2 separate regions of the Homo sapiens genome follow, and region 2 is linked to region 1. Evidence: fine-mapped expression QTL. Tissue or cell type: whole blood. Region 1 holds a variant in brackets; the other region holds the start of a gene. All regions are shown on one strand. Distances are from middle to middle.

Evidence for each region. PIP is the estimated chance that this variant, and not a neighbour inherited with it, causes the effect.
Region 2: it holds the start of TMEM255B, and the variant in region 1 is fine-mapped to the expression of TMEM255B in whole blood (TOPMed, PIP above 0.99).

The regions. Positions count from the first base shown.
Region 1 is chr13:113,840,355-113,850,863 of GRCh38, reverse strand. It overlaps GAS6 (growth arrest specific 6), which reads left to right. Exons shown (of 15, transcript NM_000820.4): 3 at 2,814-2,838; 4 at 4,275-4,337. It overlaps GAS6-AS1 (GAS6 antisense RNA 1), which reads right to left. Exons shown (of 5, transcript NR_044995.2): 5 at 8,023-8,495. Among named protein-coding and RNA genes, the nearest start is that of GAS6, 18 kb to the left of the region's middle. RefSeq lists enhancers at 1,145-1,766, 1,767-2,390. The variant C/T (reference allele first, on the strand shown) is at 5,458.
Region 2 is chr13:113,753,612-113,761,211 of GRCh38, reverse strand. TMEM255B (transmembrane protein 255B) reads right to left here and starts at 1,986. Exons shown (of 9, transcript NM_182614.4): 1 at 1,897-1,986. The coding sequence starts at 1,942. It overlaps LOC105377805 (basic salivary proline-rich protein 4-like), which reads left to right and starts at 7,093. Exons shown (of 3, transcript XM_047430843.1): 1 at 7,093-7,600. RefSeq lists enhancers at 1,267-1,768, 2,325-2,826.

The DNA of each region.
Region 1 (10,509 bases):
ATCCATACATGCATCTATCCATCCATCTATCCATCTATCAATCCATCTGTTCAGTCATTCATCCATTCACTCATCCATCCATCCACCCACTCATTCATGCATCCATCTGCCCATCCACTCATTTATTCACCCATCCATTCTTTCACGCACTCATCCACTGTCCATCTGTCATCCATCCATGTGTTTGGTGACGGCTCATGAGGCCTCTGGGGGACAGTCAGCACCAGGCTCGGTGCTGGGCAGGTAGATGTTGTCTTTTTCCTCTTGAAGCTTCAGCTAACAGTGCAGTGGCTTGGGGTTTGCTCACTTATTTTTATCTGTAGCTGTTCAAATAAAACAGAAGCAGATCCCCGGGGAAAGGATTTCCAGGGGCCAAATGGCGCCATTTCCAGCCTGGGAATCCCAGCTTCTTCCCCCTGTTGCCCTCACCTAACCCCAGCACGCCAACCCATTACCATAGGTCTTGCTCTTCCTAGGTTTAGAAGAAAGAGAGTCAGTGTGTACATAAGGAGCTCCTGGTTCTAAATTCCGGCCTCCTGAGTGGTGGCCTCTGCTCCATGGGGACTCCTGGGGGTGCTGCTCTGGAGATATGGCTAATGCAGGGCTTCAGGCCAAGGTTTATGGACCTGAACAAGCAGTAGTGCAGACAGGGGTGGGAGGGTTTTGAGGACAAAGTGCTCTGTGTTTGGTTCTGCAGGTCAGGGAGCTTATCTGGGTGCCTTTACTCAAAGCCATTTCTGGGTCTTACATCTTTGGCTAGAATGTTCTCAGGACAATGTGAAATGTCTTTATCTCAGGAGTGTATACCAGAATGTTCTCAGGACAACGTGAAATGTCTTTCTTTCTTGGGAGTGTGTACCAGAATGTTCTCAGGAAAATGTGAAATGTCTCTTTTTCTTTCTCTCAGGAGTGTATAGCGTTTTTAGGTTTATTCATCTTAGCTTTTCTCTTGCTCATGGTTTAACCATCTTTCCCCTAGTTTGCCGGTGGAATTAGCATATGCTTTCTGCCTCCATTACTGTCTCAAATAATCAAACATGCAAATTAGGATACAGTGCCCAGGGCTATAACCCTGTGGTTTCAGAAACCCCATTCCCATAGGTGTGGCGAACTGACAGGAGATTGGCATAGTTTTTCCATGAATAATGCCTTTTTGCAACAATAAAACTTGGTATTAATACAGATTACACATTAAGTAGTATGACTAGTCTTGATTTTGAAAAATAGAACACACTTGCTGTAAAGCTGTGGTAATGCAAGCATTTGTGTATAGTTAGGCCGTTTGCTCACTAGTTCTTAGTTGTTTTCAATCCCTGGCTTCTAAACCTGAAAGGACACCTTTTGCATCCCTCGCAAGTCTTTTATTTCAGAGCCAGAGCCTCCTGCTTTGAGACAAAGCCCCATCACTTCCCTTCTCCTTCCAAGCCTAGAAACCTGGTGCCACTTCGTGTTGCTCCAGGACTCCACCAGGGCTCACTTGGTATGGCTGTTCTTGCCTTTTCTTGGAGTTTGCCAACCCATGACTAAAATTGGAAGTGAGAGAAATGAGGGCAGGCATGAGGGTGTGTGTTCCAGGTCTGCAGCCCTCCTGGCCTTCAGGGCGGCCGCCCTCCCAACAGACACGTGAGCTGCACACCAGCTCACCCTGACCCTTCCTTTCTCTTAAGGGAGTAAGAGTTTAAGAGCATCCCATCTTTCCTAGAACACAACTTTGTGAAAACACATCCAAGCAGGCCTCAGGAGGGTGTTGGCAAGGCTGGGGCGGGGCCTCCAGGCTCTTCCCACAAAAGGTGTGGCAAGGCCAGCAAGTGTGGGAGAGAGGTGGGAAGGAGGCAGAAAGGCCATGCAGAGCCAGCGCATGAAGCCAGAGGCGCGTTGCAGACGGCGCTGGGTACCTACCGCCTCTGTCTGCTACTCTGCAAAATGCTACCAGCGCCTGCTAATCCTGACCTTCATGCCCCCAGGTGAATCCCACAACCATCCTGAAGCCGGGTTTCCTCATTCCTGATAATGGGATTAAAAAGACCTTCCTGGGTGTTATTTGTGAGGATTTCATAAAATAGTGTAAAAATGCTGACTCATACCCAGCATGGAGAGGCCGCTGGGACTATTCTGCCATGACTGTGGTCTCTTGGTTTAGAGCATTTAGGGCCAAACTGCTGGCATGGTTGACCCTAAGCTGGAGATTGGAGGCTGCTTTAACCAGGCTGTGGCCCTAGAATCTGTGGGCCATGGCAAAAGGATCCTGAAGAAGTTTCCGGCCGGCCTCTGCTGGCCAAGTGACAGGCAGGTGGTTCCAGGACTCGACAGCTCACTTGTGTCGAATGTGGACCTCGTCAGTGCGCTTTCATGGATAAGAAGACCCTTCATTACAGCCTCCATCCTCACCCAGTACCAATTTTGTTTCACCAATACTATAAGTGCAAATCAATGCCCGTGTGCCAAAAGAAAGGTCTTTGGGGTTTTGAGAGACCTTTGTGTCAACAGGGAACTAAGGTCTTTGGGTTTTAGAGACCCTTATGTCAACAGGGAACTAAGAGTGGGGTTTTACTTGGAAGCATTCTTGTCCTCCTGGGCAGGCCTCTCCCCTGGACACACCTGGTAGCACTTCCTACGCAGCTGGAAATGGCCCTGCCTTTGCTTGTTGGTCTCACAGCAGTCGTGCCCCGGTCACTTCCCCTCAGTTCCCCGGGTGGGGCGGCCCTCTGGCTGCCCCGAGAGCAGCCTCTGATTAACCAGCTGATGCTTATGTTGTTCAGAGACCCTCGTAGTGTGCCGGTCAATGCTTGCCTTTTCTTTTTCTTTTTCCACAGGATTATTTTTACCCAAGATACTTAGGTAAGTCTCAATTACTTCTCTACTCTGGTTGTCGTAGAGGCATAGTTGGGGGTGCGTGTTTCATGTTGGAGGAATCTCCTCACCACGTAACTCTTGGAAGGAAGATTCTTAATCACATGGTGCACGTGGAACTGTCCGGAACATGCAGGTCAGAAACACAAGTTTCTCTCTTTATTTTATACCACAGCTTTATTCCGTGTTAGTGGAACCTCAGGTGAATGCTGTTATCTGCAAACCCCTTCTCTGAGTTGATGCCAGGCTCAGCTCCTTGTCAGGACGTGTAATTGATTTTGTCCTCCGGTTTTCTGACCTCAGCACTAATCACTTCTGAAGTCATTGAGGACCCCAAAGGGGTCCATGTTCATGTGGGCTGTATTGACTGATATTTACCGTATTCTTAATTAAAACCGAAAACACTGAATAGTGTTTCTGTTTAATTTGAAGAACGGGAATGCCAGACGTTATCTCAGCCATCAGAGCAGCTGGTGCATGTGGGGCGGCCTCTGGAGACCCCCACTGTACACTTGGGAAGGGAGGACAGCAAGAAAGTGAAACCCAGAGACCCCGGGTCAGCCCGTTTAACTGACACCATCTTAGAGCTCTTTGAGAGCATTTCACTTAGAAGGAGAGAAATGTATTCCAGGGTCTTCTTTTTAATGTTGCAAAGTGCATTTTAGTAAATGTCCTCTTAAAGGGTCCTTCCCTGGGTCCATATCTGGAACAAACACAGTGGGTCTGGCACTGGCCCAGAAAGCCCAGGCACCAGCGAGGACTGAGTTCTGAAGCAGGGGGTGGCCAGCGGTCCACAGCACACCTGCAGGAGGCCTTCCGCTGTTCATCCGTGCCGTTCTGCGCCTGGATAAGCAACAGTAACCCACTGAAGGGCCAGGTCGAGAGGCCCCGCACCGTTCTGCACAACCTCACGCTTCGGGTTATCCCTGGATGTGCATGTGCCAGGCCTCGCCTCCCCCCGCCGCCCTAGCGGGATGTCTGCTGTCAAGCTGTGTTCAGCCAGCCAGAGAGCATGGAGGGGCTTTCTCCAAAGCAGAGTGGCTTTCCAGTTAAGCACAGCGTTTCCCAATGGGGGTCCACTGGAAAATGAAGTTTAGCTTTTCGAGTACCGTCAGGAACTTACTGAGCATTCCCGGTGATTCTCCCGTATGGCAGGAGGAGCCCCCTCGAAACGGCGGGCGGTGCTTTACGCACTTGACTGTGGGTGCACAACTCCGCTGAGTTGGTGGAGGTGGTTTCCTGTTTGTCAGGGTTGGGGCTAACATGTTTTTTATTAACACAAGCTAAGCGGCATTGTTTCTGGAGGATGATAGCACCCCAGGTAAGCAGAGTAACTGCCTCTCCAGAGCGTCTCAGAAGCAGAGGCTCTGCAGTCCATCCGGTCTTGTAAGGATGACTGACATCCATTCCCTTTCTTCCTGCAGACTGCATCAACAAGTATGGGTCTCCGTACACCAAAAACTCAGGCTTCGCCACCTGCGTGCAAAGTAAGTCGGCCTCCTTTGCGCCTTCCTGGGAGCACTGTGGGTTTGGGCGGCTTTAGGCTTGGCTGTGGTTTGTGGAGGGCCCTGAATAGTTCTGTTTTTTAAGGAGCTGTGGTCCCTTGCCGAGGCCTGCTCCCTTTTCGCCAAACTTTCTTTTTTAAACAAGTAAATTTTGACGTTTTTAGCAATAGGCAATAAATGCACATGGAACAAAATGTAAATGTTTCACAGAGTGTGATGTGAAAGCCCATCCCCGCCTCTGAGTCGTCCAGTCAGACACCACCGTAGTTACAGTTCCAAGAATCTTGTGCTTAGACATGTAAACATGTGTGAGCGGCCTTCCGCTCTTCACACGCGTGGCGGCTTAGCACACACGGTCTGTCCCGTGCCTCTGCAACTCTGTCTGCACAGGAGACCCTCTCTTAGCGTGTCTCACCTTCACGCTGGCATTTCCAGCCGGTGCATCATATGAACTTAGCCCATGCATATTGGCTGATGTCCAGGTTATTTCCAATTTCCATCATTTAAACAAAACTGGCGTGACATCCTCATGCACCTGTTGCCTCCCACACGTCTGAGTGTCTGCGGGATGCGTTCCCAAGGATGGAATCGCAGAGGCAGTCCTCATGTTTCCTTTGGATACAGATACTGCCAAATTATCCCAGAGCCAGCCTTAGCCTCCGCCCCTGCAGGGGTGAATGAACTGTTTTTTTAAACTTTTGATCTCTTCCAATGTAACAGGCGAGAAATGACATCAGTCATTTCAGGTTTTTTTTTTTTTTTTTAACTAATGAGTAAAGCTGTCCTTCATAGGTTTAAAAACTGTGTATTTCTTTTCCTATAAACTGTTGTTTATATTTTTTGCCTGTTTTTCTCAATTTGTAGGAGTTTGCACATTAGCCATTGGTAGTAAAGTTATCAAAAATTTTTTCAGCTTGCCACAAGTCTTTTTTATTATTTTAAAATTATCATGCAATAAGATTGATTGTTTTGGGTGTCCTGTATGAATTTTAACATACCTTCAGCACAACCCACACAGCTCCCCTTGCACTGGGTCTGTGGTCCGCTGGCGTCACGTGTGTCTAGTTTTAGATGAAAGTCCAGCTTGGTGAGTCCCTGTGGG[C/T]GCTGAGAGCAGAGGCGTGGCGGGACGGAGTCATCCTGGGAGAGGCAGGAGTCTCTTCCCAGGCATGGCTTTGGAGCTGGATCCCAGTCAGCAGAAGGAGTCAGAGGTGGCTCAGTCCCGCTCCCCAAGCCCCACGCACTGTCCGTGGGCGTCTCTGGCCTCCCGGACTTGTATCACAGACCCCAGCCCAAGAGACACAGGCAGAGGAAATGCTCAGTGTAAACATGGGAATGGGAGGGTGGCCCTGCCCTGTGGCCCGGCCTGCCCTGACCTGCAACCATGCACAGTAGCCAGGTGCCACGTAGGGCCCAATGTCTGCATTTGGGGCAGAGGCTCCTGCGTGCTCAGAGGAGACAAGCAGATCCTGTCACGCGTGTTTTATCTTAGTGATTGCTAAACCAGTCTCTTCTTTTAAATTCTGTATTCACACTTGTTATACTCTCTTAGTTCCTGGGCTTTAGGCTTCTCCCCAAGATTACAAAACAGTTACCTGCTGTTAGGTGTTTTCATCTGTGACCCGCCCGTAATTTCTTTTGACGTGATGGATGAGGTGGGGATCTAGACTGCAGGCTCAGTTCCTGCCCCAACACCACACATTTGAGTCTGTCTCACCCCAGTGCCTCACCTGCTGCCGTCCTCATATGCTGGGTATTTGGGAGATTTTCTGCCGGGTTTCCACAGGCCGTGGCCACAGCTTTAGACTCGGCCTCATGCACGCGGGTGGGTCTCCTATGCCCTCCTCAGTCTTTTTTCTGGTTGTCTTGCTTATTTTTTAATAAAACTAAACCTTAAAAATATTCTTAAAAACCTAAAAAAGCCCTTTAGATATTTTTAACTGGGCTTGCCATTCATATATCGGAGACTGTGTCTGAACAGTGTTGCGCTTTCCTAACCCCGGCACCGTCCTGTCCGTCCCTTGGAGCACTTTTCTTCCTGTGCGTCCCGTGCTTCCTTTGCTCAGTTCACTTCTGGCTATTTGCAGCAAAGAAGGCCGTCCTTTTCAAGGCGTCGCCTCGCTTCCTTGCATGGATGAAGAGGAGTGATTGCTACATGTTCCTTTCTGTTCCCGCCGCCCAATAGAGTTATCTTGTTTTGGTTATTTCCTTTGTGGCATCAGCGTCCCCAAGTGCGGCCAGCTGGGGAGAGGAGGGCAAGGTCAAGATCCTTGAGTTTGTTCCCTGTGTGATAGGAAGAGAATCTCTTGCTGTGGCTGGTGCCAGAGGCAACACATGCAGTTTCTAACGGGTCCACCTGCCCCAGGCCAGAAGCTCCGGCCACTCTCCCTGAGCCGGCCCTCAGAGGCTGCCCTGCCTGTGGCCTGGGGCTCTCAGCTTCTCCTCCAGAGCACGTGGCTGGGGCCTCTGATGTTCGCGTGCCTCAAAAGATGCCTGGCGGTGAAGAAGGTGCTTTGGTGGCCTGGCCACAGCAGGCAGCCTTGCACTCCCTTGGGAAGGCGCCTCCCGGAGGATGCAGCTGGGGCAGCCTCACACTCTGTTCCTGTTCATTGGTTCCCTCGTGAAAATTCTCTGACTTGGTGCTCACGGTGCTGTCCTGGCTTCAGTTCACTGGTTATCGGTCATTGTGAAATTAAAGCCATAGCCCCATAAAGTCCAAATTCAGCCCCAGACAAGCAGGCCCCCAGCGGGCCTTGCATGGGAGCCTGCGGCCCTCAGGCTGTCCCAGGACCCAGGCGGCACAGTGGACGGAGGGAGGAGGCCTGGGAAGAGTGTAGGCTGCGTTCCCAGGTGCCCCTGAAGAGCCTCTGCTTCCATTTCTTTCCTTTCCCACGGACACACCCAGCTTCTCCACTGCGAACGCGCCCGTCCTGCCATAGCGGCCACTTGGTGCTTGGATTTCTCGGCTCCTTTGACCCATGGGTTTCCCCAGGAAGGTCAGGTCCCCACAGGCGGTGGCCCAGGCAGCGGTCACTGAGCCCCGGCTACCGGGATCCCACCCCCGCCACGGGGAGTGTCCCCTCGCCCTTCCCTCGGGCAGACAGGGCTCTGGTCCTCGCTCGTCACCACCCAGGGAAAGGCCCTGGCCGCCCGCACCGGCTTCAGATTCCAGCCACAGCCACAGCCGCTCCCTCCTGTCCTTCAACGCAGTCATGGGCCAAGCTGAGATAAACCCTTCACCTCCTGAACAGGCGCTGGCGCCCAGGGCATGACCAGCCAGGCCACCGATACCCTAGGCCCAGCTTGCGGGATGGGGATCAGGGAGGTGGGCGGGGGTCAGGGAGGTGGACGGGGTCAGGGAAGTGGGTGCCCTCGGGGGCCTGCAGAGGTTTCTGTCTCCATCGCTTTCCCTGTTGTGTGGAGGAAATTCCACAGATATTTGCTGGGCACCGGCTGACTGTCCACCCCTCAGGTGTGGTTCCGTCCTTGCATCCTAGAGGTATCAATACATTCCCAACAGGGAAATAAACAAATGAGTTGGGGGAGGCCCCGGGGCAGGTGGCATGAGTCTGGGGACCGCTTAAGAGCTGGGCACCTGGCAGGAGCAGGCACTGTCCCTCAGCCTCAGGGACAGAGGTCTTTCCGAAAGGCATTCCAGGCAAAGTCAAGACCGGGTTCCCAGCCCTTTGCATCACATGGGCAGGTGTCCACTTCTGAAATGGCTTTAATCTCTAACCAAACATCGTAGCGGCAGCGCACAGCATCCCCCAGACATCCCTCCATGGTGGGGGCCTCTGAGGAGGTCAGGTTCTGGTGCCGGAGGGTTGGGCCCTGCACAGGCCGCCTGCCCTGCACGTGTCTGACTCCCTCCTGCCCCCAGAGCCTCTTCATCTGAGGCCAGGGTGGAGAAGCGGATACGCCCCTCATTTCTCTAGTTCAGGCCAGACCTCCCCGTTCCAGGCCCTGCTATGACCACATCGACGTCTCCAGACGCCCCGCGGACACAGCACCCAGGTACAGCCGGGCGACAGCAGTGTCAGGGATGGGGCCCCGGCCGGCTCCTGGCGGCTGTGCTGATGCAGAATCCCTGGTCCTGGTCCTCGTTTCCTCGTAACTCCGAAGGCCAGCCCCAGCCCCTGTGTGCTTCAGAGTAGAAAGCGTTTATAGTGACCTGCTGAAAATAGCATCTTAGAAACACTTCGAGACGCGAGCTCCGTCCACACCCACAAGTGTTCTGTTGTCAGTCATTTGTGCAAAACAAGCAAACGGAGGTGTAGGGAGGAAACTGTGGGGTGTACTGAGGAAACTGAGGCTTATAGAGGAAACTGTGAGGCAGACGGAGGAAACTGAGGTGTATGGAGGAAACTGAAGCATACAGAGGAAATTGAGGCGTATGGAGGAAACTGGGGCGTATGGAGGAAACTGGGGCGTATGGAGGAAACTGGGGCGTACAAAGGAAATTGAGGCGTATGGAGGAAACTGGGGCGTATGGAGGAAACTGAGGCATATGGAGGAAACTGTGGGGCGTACAGAGAAAATTGAGGCGTATGGAGGAAACTGTGGGGTGTATGGAAGAAACTGGGGGGCGTATGGAGGAAATTGAGGCATATGGAGGAAACTGTGGGGTGTATGGAGGAAACTGGGCATATGGAGGAAACTGTGGGGCGTATGGAAGAAACTGTGGGGCGTATGGAGGAAACTGTGGGGCGTATGGAGGAAACTGTGGGGCGTATGGAGGAAACTGGGGGGCGTATGGAGGAAACTGGGCATATGGAGGAAACTGTGGGGTGTATGGAGGAAACTGGGCATATGGAGGAAACTGTGGGGTGTATGGAAGAAACTGGGGGGCGTATGGAGGAAATTGAGGCATATGGAGGAAACTGTGGGGTGTATGGAGGAAACTGGGCATATGGAGGAAACTGTGGGGCGTATGGAGGAAACTGTGGGGTGTATGGAGGAAACCGGGGCGTATGGAGGAAACTGGGGCATACGGAGGAAACTGTGGGGCGTATGGAGGAAATTGAGGCATATGGAGGAAACTGGGGCATACGGAGGAAACGCGGGTGTACGGAGCAAACTGTGAGGCATACGGAGGAAACGCTGTGAGGCATACGGCGAAGCGTCGCAGAAAGAAGCCAGTGTGGTTGGGCAGCTTCCCCAAGAAGCCTGGGACTCGTAGCCAGGGCCTCTGGTGAGCGCGGTGCCTGGACCCGCCTAGGAGGACAGGGGCTGTGTCTGTGCCGGCCACAGGCAGTGACTGTAAGCCCTGGATGAGCTGGAGGAACTCAGCTTTGTGAACCACAGACCCGCCCGCCGCTCACCCTGGCACCGGGCACCCCTGACCCCGGCCAGGTGGGGATGGAAGCGGCTCCTGCACTGACAGCCGAGCCCAGACCCTCTGGTGGAAACGCCACATTCTACAGACCTGGTGGGAAACGTCACCTTGGGAGCCTCAGGAACAGAAGCGACACGCTGGCAGTGAGAGCCCATGCACTGAAGACTCGACGTGCCCCCACCAGGGCTGACCCCTTAGGACGATGCTGGCCCAGTGCCCTAGGGCCCTGCTGGCCCGGCCTGCACTTTTCCCAGGGACTGGTCCTTATTGAACTTGTGTGGAATCAATGGACCGGAGCCCTCTCTCAGCCAGCAGGGGGGCCCTACCCAGGGTTCCCCACGGAGCCCTGTGTGGCTAAGCTGAGCGTGGCTGAGTCCTCATGTGGGGCTGAGCTGAGTGTGGACCGCGCCCCTGAGCACTGCCATGCTCAGCCCCGAGCTGCTTCTGCTCTGCCAGCAGCCATGAAAGGATTCTTTGAGCTCCGGGTGTAATTGTCGTTCTTTCTGCCAACTTCCCGGGGCTCAGGCTTGCGTAACTGCACTGTCGGGGGCTTCCCTGCCTGCCTCTGGGACGTGGTTTGGGTCCGTGTCCTGGAAGCGTGTTTGTGAGCAGCTCCTCGTATGAATGTGTTTGTGAGCAGCTTCTCGGATGGGGGACTGCTTGGGAAGCAGCTGCACTGGCACGGGTTCCCACCCTCAGGCCCTCACCCGTTCCCCTGACCTCTGGCCCTGCAGGAGCTGAGCCCAGGTGACCACCCTGAGAAAGGGCAGAACACACCTGGCCTAAAGCCATCAAGACACGTGGAGAGGGGGCAGCTAAGCA
Region 2 (7,600 bases), 88 kb after region 1:
TCCTGCCAGCCGGACCTGGAACGCCCAAAAAGAAGAGTGAGTTCCATTTAATCATGTGGGGACACCAGTCATGGTGTCCAAGTAACAATCCCAGGTAAAACTGTAATCACTCAGCCGTCAATTCCTCTTTCGTCCTGATTTTACACATGCCCAGGGTAGTGAACAAAGAAGGGCAAAGCAGAAAAACCCATAATCCTACCCCCAGGTACCCCAAAGCAGAAAGACTATGGTCCACCCCCAGATACCCCAAAGCAGAAAAACCCACAATCTACCTCCAGACACACCAAAGCAGAAAGACCATAACCCACCCCCAGACACACCAAAGCAGAAAGACCATAATCCACCCCCAGGCACACCAAAGCAGAAAGACCATAATCCACCCCCAGATACCCCAAAGCAGAAAGACCATAACCCACCCCCGATACCCCAAAGCAGAAAGACCATAATCCACCCCCAGACACACCAAAGCAGAAAGACCATAATCCACCCCCAGATACCCCAAAGCAGAAAGACCATAATCCACCCCCAGATACCCCAAAGCAGAAAGACCATAACCCACCCCCAGATACCCCAAAGCAGAAAGACCATAATCCACCCCGACACACCAAAGCAGAAAGACCATAATCCAACCCCAGACACACCAATGCTTTATACATTTTAGTAAAAGACCAGCTCCAAACAAAAAGACCCATAATCCTACCCAGATACACCAATGTTTCATATACTAAAAAGACCAGCTCCAAGTATTGTTTTAAGGTTTAAAGTTCTTTGTCAGAAGAAAATCTAAGTCAGATGCTATTTTTAAACATTAAGGCATTCTAATAATGATAAAACTAGTTAATAAATAATAATAATAGTTATCATTATTAAACACCAATAGACTAATCCACATTAATACATTTGACCATAGAGCATTTTGCTTTAGATTGGAAGGCATATAGTGGTTTCTTTTAGAAAGAAGCCAAATTATTTGATTATTTTAAGTAACAGTAATTCGTCCGGTTCCGAACGATGCCGCAGTAAAAGGGTTGTGAGGTTAATCCCCAGAAGTTTGTGTTGGATTATTTCTGAGGGAGCGGCAGAGCCCCCTAGACACCACTCCATCCCTCCCTCCAGCCGTCAGGGCTTCACTTTCTAGGGAACTCTGTTTCTCTTTTGTTCTGAAATCTGCCCAGCCCTCTCCCCCTCAGGAAGACACCCGGCATCCTTCCAGTCCTGGCCACTTCCCGGCAGAGCCCCCGAGCCCGGCTTGCGAACTGGTGAACACGCAACAGGTTTCCTGTTTTCCCAGCCTTTGCCTGGCTCCGAGGCTGCAGCGGGCTTGGTCTGGGAAGTGGAAGAATTGGAGATTCCGTGAACACACCGGGGAGAAACACGAGAGAGGGGCGAGCCGAAACCAAGCAACACTGTCCAGTTCTGTGAGCGCCTCTGCACGTTCAAACAGGAAAAGGCTACCTCGCTCTTCCAAACGAAGTTTTCCCGGAAAATGGTGTAGGTTGGAATAAACGGAAGAGATGGGGAAGGAGCGCACTTTGGGGCGCCTGTTCCTCATAATAAAACGTAACAGGGAGAGAGAGGCCAAGAGGAACGGACACAGAGTCAGAGAAAGGCAAAGACTGAGGAGGCAGAGACAGAAAGAGCGAGAGAGACAGAGACAGAGACAGAGAGAGAGACAGGGAGAGAGAATGAATGAACGAACCGGTAGGACGAACGCCCGACCCCAGTGCGAAATGCAAAGTGTTCCAAAGACAGAGCTCGAAGGAGGCGGAGGGACCAGACCCCGTGCCGCGTCTCCGCGCAGGTTCCGCCCGGGCCGGCCGGGGACCTGTAGTCCCAGCCCCGGGGTCCCCACGCTCCCCCGCAGGAGCCGAGACGAGCCCCCAGCCCCGCGCTCACCTGCGGGGTCCAGCAGGCCCAGGGGCCCGGGCACCGGCGGCTGCATCCCGAGGCCCCACCCGGCTCTCCCGGGGCCACAGCCACAGTCCCGCCGCCAGGAGCCGCCCTCGCGGCGCCGCCCCTTCCCCGCCCCCTGCACCTCCCCGCGCTCCGCCCGCCTCGCGTCCTTCCTCGCTCTACTCTCCCTTCTCCGGCGTTTCTTCTCCTCCCTCCCCCGCTGCGCCCGCTCCCCCTTCTCCCCTCCAGCGGCCGCCTGGTTTCTGGAAATCAGGACGCCGCGGCCGGGAGTGGAAGCCAGACCCCAGATGGAAGGTGCCTGGAGAGGACCCTGCGGACTCGGGGTCGGAGCCCCGGCCTGGGACGGTGACCCCGGGCCTTCCGCCGCTGGCGCCACGCTCAGCCCTTGGCGGTGCCGCTGAGTGGGTCACCACGGGTTCGCCTCCCCATTGGCCGGTGACGGAGCTCCTTGGGGCTACAGGGCCAGCCAGCCCTTGATCTCTGGGTTCAGAGGGTGGTACATGGTGTTACAACCCAGTCTGCGAGGAACGAGTAAATGAGGAACAAACGCAAATGAGTAAATGAGGAACAAACGCATCTGGCACCTCACTCAGCAGCCCCGAGGCAGGGCTGACCCGCCTCTCCAAGGCCTGCGTCTTTGTGTCCACAGCACTGAAGTTGTTCTGAGTAAAATCTGCTGCTGGAAAGAAGGGCAAGGAAACACGGGGCCAGAAAGGGTGCCTCGTACAGCAGCAGGAAAAAATAAAGATCCTTCTAAACGTATTTTTAACATCTTTGAGTCAAGGACATCAGCGGTCCCGTCACAAAAGAAGATGCTTGAACGATCAATAAACTCAGCCCCCGGAATTAGGGGAACGCTGTGGGAACAAGAGGATGCGTTTCACCCTCATCCTATCAGAAAACCCCAAGGGTCAAACAACTTAAAGAATGTTAATGAAAACGTGGGAATCTGCATTCACCGCTGGGATCACGCATGGTGCCACCACTTTGAAAGCAACCTTTAGGAAAATTGAAGCAAGTAGATGACAAGCCAGAAAGAAAGCATATCTCTTTCTAGATATGCCCAAGAACACAAACATAGATCTGCTCCTTCGAGCCAGGAGCCGTGGTTCTCAACCCCGGCTGTCGTTAAAGTCATCCAGGAATGTCTTTAAAAGAAAAAACATTTCTGCAGCACTGAACCCAGACCAGATCAATTGAACCAGAACTTCTGGGAACAAACTAATAGCTAAGAATTCCCTAGTCATTCTAATAGGCCATCCACTGTGAGAGAGAAACTACCACAAGAAGTATGCATGTGCTAGAAGATGCGTACAGAATATTCCTCACAACACTGTGTGTCCAAAGCACCGGACACACCCTGAATATCCAACACGGGGAGAAGCGATAAAGAAATGGGCATATACAGCGAAATACCACATGGCAGTTAAAATAAATGAGAGCTACATGGATCAATGTGGATAAATGCCAAAAACAGAACGCGGAGCAAAAATGCAAGTGCACAGTACGGCAGCGAGTACGACAGCAAGTACGGCAGCGAGTATGGTACCATTTATATAAAGTTTTAAACCATGAAAATTAACACTGTTCACTCAGTGAGCCTCTCAAGACTTACTAAACATCCGCGATATACCAGACACTGTTCCAGGTACTTGGGATGTATCAATGAGCAACGTAAACAAGGATCCTGGTGGGGAAGTGAGGCCATGAATAATAATACAATAAACAAGAAAAATGCACAGCATGTCAGAGGGCAACATGCTATGGAATACACACACACATATACACATACACACATGCAGACATACACACATGCATGCACATACACACATACACACACATGCATATATACACATGCATACATACACACATGCATGCATGTGTGCATACATACATGCACGCATACATACATGCACATACACACATGCATACATGTGTGCATACATACACGCACACATACATACACATACATACACACATGCATACATACACACTTATACGTGCATACATGCACATATGCACATATACATACACACATGCATGCATACACACATGCACACACATACACATGCACACATACATGCACACACATGCACATACACACACATACACACTTATACATACACACACATACACACATACATACATACACAGCCAGGTAATGCAGGCCACAGAAAAAGGAAAGAGAGGTAAAGAAACAAAATAGAAAGTATAGTGTGGGAGAGGGAGGGAGCTGTGGTTTTTAAGTAGTGAAAAGAGAGCTTGTTGACAGGTGATGTTGAAGACCAAGCTTGAGGGCGTGGAGGTGGTTGCTCACCCAGACATCTGGGGCAGAGGGTCTGAGGAAAAGGAACCTCCATGCAAAGGCCCTGGGGTGGAGCCATCCAGGCCCAGGGGGAGCAGCAAGGAGACCAGGGTGCCAGAGGCTTGTGGGGACCAGGTGGAGGACATCAGGGGTGAGCCGCAGGGCCTCTGGCCTTTGCTCCGAGTGATGTGGGGGTTATTGGAGGGTCCTACACATAGGATTACTGGAGAGTAGTTGTAGGATAGCAGAATGGAAGCTGAGAAACTGGTTATAGGATATGATGAAACAGTAGGAGGTGATTACACGGACACCATGAGTCATGTTTGCAGATACACGGACACCGTGAGTCCTGTGTGCAGATACACGGACACCGTGAGTCCTGTGTGCAGATACACGGACACGTTGAGTCATGTGTGCAGATACACGGACGTGAGTCTCGTGTGCAGATACATGGACACCGTCTCGTGTGTGCAGATACATGGACACCGTGACTCATGTGTGCAGATACACGGACGTGAGTCTCGTGTGCAGATACATGGACACCGCCTTGTGTGTGCAGATACATGGACACCATGAGTCATGTGTGTGCAGATACATGGACACCGTGAGTCATGTGTGTAGATGCATGGATACTGTGTAAGTAAAGTAGAAGAACATGCTGGGGGAGAGTGCATGCTTCATCCAGAACTGTGATTCTCTGTCTGGGTGGACAAGCTGAACAGCTTTGGAACTATGTCTAGGGGCTTAAACTCTATTTGTGAAATCTTCTTTCTTTAAAAAAGTTAAAAGACTTGTAAAAAAAGGGGGAATGTTGAGATACCATTAAGGCTAGATGGTGTGGACAGGGATGTTATATTATTCTCTATACTTTTCTGGATGTTTAAAATAGATGATTACTTTTTTGTAACTTTTTATTTTTATCTATTTTCAAACCTAAAGGTGGTTTGCAGGGATAGTGCAAGGAGCTCCTGTGCATCCTCTACCCAGGTGTGCCTTTGTTTGCAGTCTGTCACTTTTTTGTTTTTTGAGACATGCTGTGGCTCTGTGGCCCAGGCTGGAGTGCAGTGGCATGATCATAGCTTACTGCAGTCTCCACCTCCCAGGCTCAAGCGATCCTCTCACCTCAGCCTCCCAAGTAGCTAGGACCACAGGCGTGTGCTGCAACACCCAGCTAAGGTTTATACTTTTTGTAGAGATGGGGTTTCCTCATGTTGCCCAGGCTGATGTCAAACCCCTGGGCTCAAGTGATCCTCCCATCTGGGCCTCCCAAAGTGCTGGGATTACAGACGAGAGCTACTGTGCCCGGCCACAGTCTGTTATATTTTAAAAATTAAATGGACGAAAGGAAAAGAAAAGGAGGAAAAAGGGCGCCTGCTTGGCTCTGCAGGCCGAGTCCCACCCTAAGCCGCCAGGGTGCCCAACCTCTTCCACCACTGAGAGCAGCCCAGGGATTTCCATGTTTGTCTCATTCCACCAGGCTCAGGGAATGCCTTTTTAAAGAGGAGAAAAAGCGCCTGCCTGGCATGGGGAATGTGCAGGGGCCAACTGGAGCACAGCCAACTCAGAACTTCTTCAGGGGCTCCCTGAGCAGGCCCCACCTGCCTCCTCTCCCCAGGCCTGCACCTCGGAAGTGGCTGGAACCCACAGCCAGCACCTGTCCTTCCTTCCCGCCAGCACCACCTTCCTTCTCTACTCACTCAGAGATACCGGGGTTCCCCATGACTGGTTCATCCTCCCCTCACCCCTAACTTTCCGTGGTCCTCAGATCTCTAACCCATTCCTGCAACATCCAGTGAGGTAGGGAAGCAACAGCGCTGGCTCCGAGAGCCAGGGTCAGGGCCAGGGGCTGACTCCCACACTGTCCTGTCCTGAGCATTGTCCAGGCCCAGAGCAGGGCTGGGCTTGGCGCTGGGCTGTGGAAGCACAGGAGTGATCACTGACCTGGGGCCCTGATGGAGCTCAGAGGCTGATGGAGAAGAGACAGAAAGACTGAGCCCTCCCAGGTGATGCCACCGTGTTAAGCTCAGCGCTGAGAGGCAGCGGGAGGTGTCGCAGGGAGGGCTCCCGCAAGGAGAGACACACAGAGCTAAGAGCTGGAGGGCAGGGAGCCAGGCCGCTCGGGCCCTTCCTGGAGGATCGGATGAATCTGTTATCTCTGAGCAAGCTCCGGGAAACAGGAGACAGGTCGGGGGCTGGCTTGATGGGGGCAGTGGATGGGGTTACCCAAGATACGCTGCGACCTGTGAGCGTCCGGGAAGGGATTCAGGCTTGGGAGGAGTCCAGGAGACAGAAGTCATAGGATTGCCAATCTTTACAGTGGGACAGGTCCTTGGAGGTCATTCCGGTTACTACAACTGTGGGACAAATGACCCCATAACTCAGTGGCTTAAAAAACCACATTTATTTAGTTGGAGTTGAAATTTGGGCAAGGCCAGGAGTGGACACCCTGCCTCTGCTCCACTCAGGGTGAGCTAGGGTGGCTCCCAGGACTGGCGCGTGGCTGACTGTGGCTGTGCCTGTAACCTCTCCAGGTGACGTGGGCTTCCTCATGACATGGGGGCTGGACTCCCAGGAACGTTGGGCAAGAGAGAGAGCCGGGTGGAGTCTGTGGCACCTTCTGCAACCCAGCCTCAGCTTCACGCTGTGTCACCTCTGCTGCCTTCTCTTCAGCAGCCCGGTGACAAAATTCAAAGGAAGAAGGAAGAGCCTCTCCTTGTGTGTGGGAAATAGAAAGGTGATGTGGTCATTTGGGGAAAATAGAATTTGCCACAGGGATCACTGTGTCAGGACAGGACCCTCACTACAGGGAGGCTGGAAGGTGAACAAGCGATAATAAAGATAACGAACCTTTTCCTCTTACTTCAGCAGATATTTCGCAGCTATTTGGGCAGCTTGGAATGGGAACTGGTGGTCTTCCTAGACCACAGGTAATGAGGGGTGGCGTGGAGGAGGCAGCCGTGCCAGGCAGGAAGATCATCCTGGGATCTGCGATGTGTGCATCGGAAGCACCCAGAGAGAATAGAAGCTGCCAGAAAAATGCAAGGAAACCCAGAAACTCGGAGAGCACAAACGAATCACAGTTTTTATTGTGTGAATTTTCACTAAATATCCTACAATGAATATTCGTCATAAGAAAAAGTCATTTTTAATGTCATGATTTCCTGGAAATATAGAAAGAAAGAAAAACAGAAAAGGCACAACTGCCCCCGAGCACAGCAGCAGAATCTTGGTGGTGGGCGCTCCCCTGCCACGCCCGGGGATGCTCCTGCTTCAGGAGTTCACTTGGCTCAGTTATGGCAGCAGGTTCTGATGCTGCAGAGCTCAGAGCAGAAAGGCTAAGGACGCCTGCTTAGGGCCCCTACTGTGTGTGTGCATGTCTGT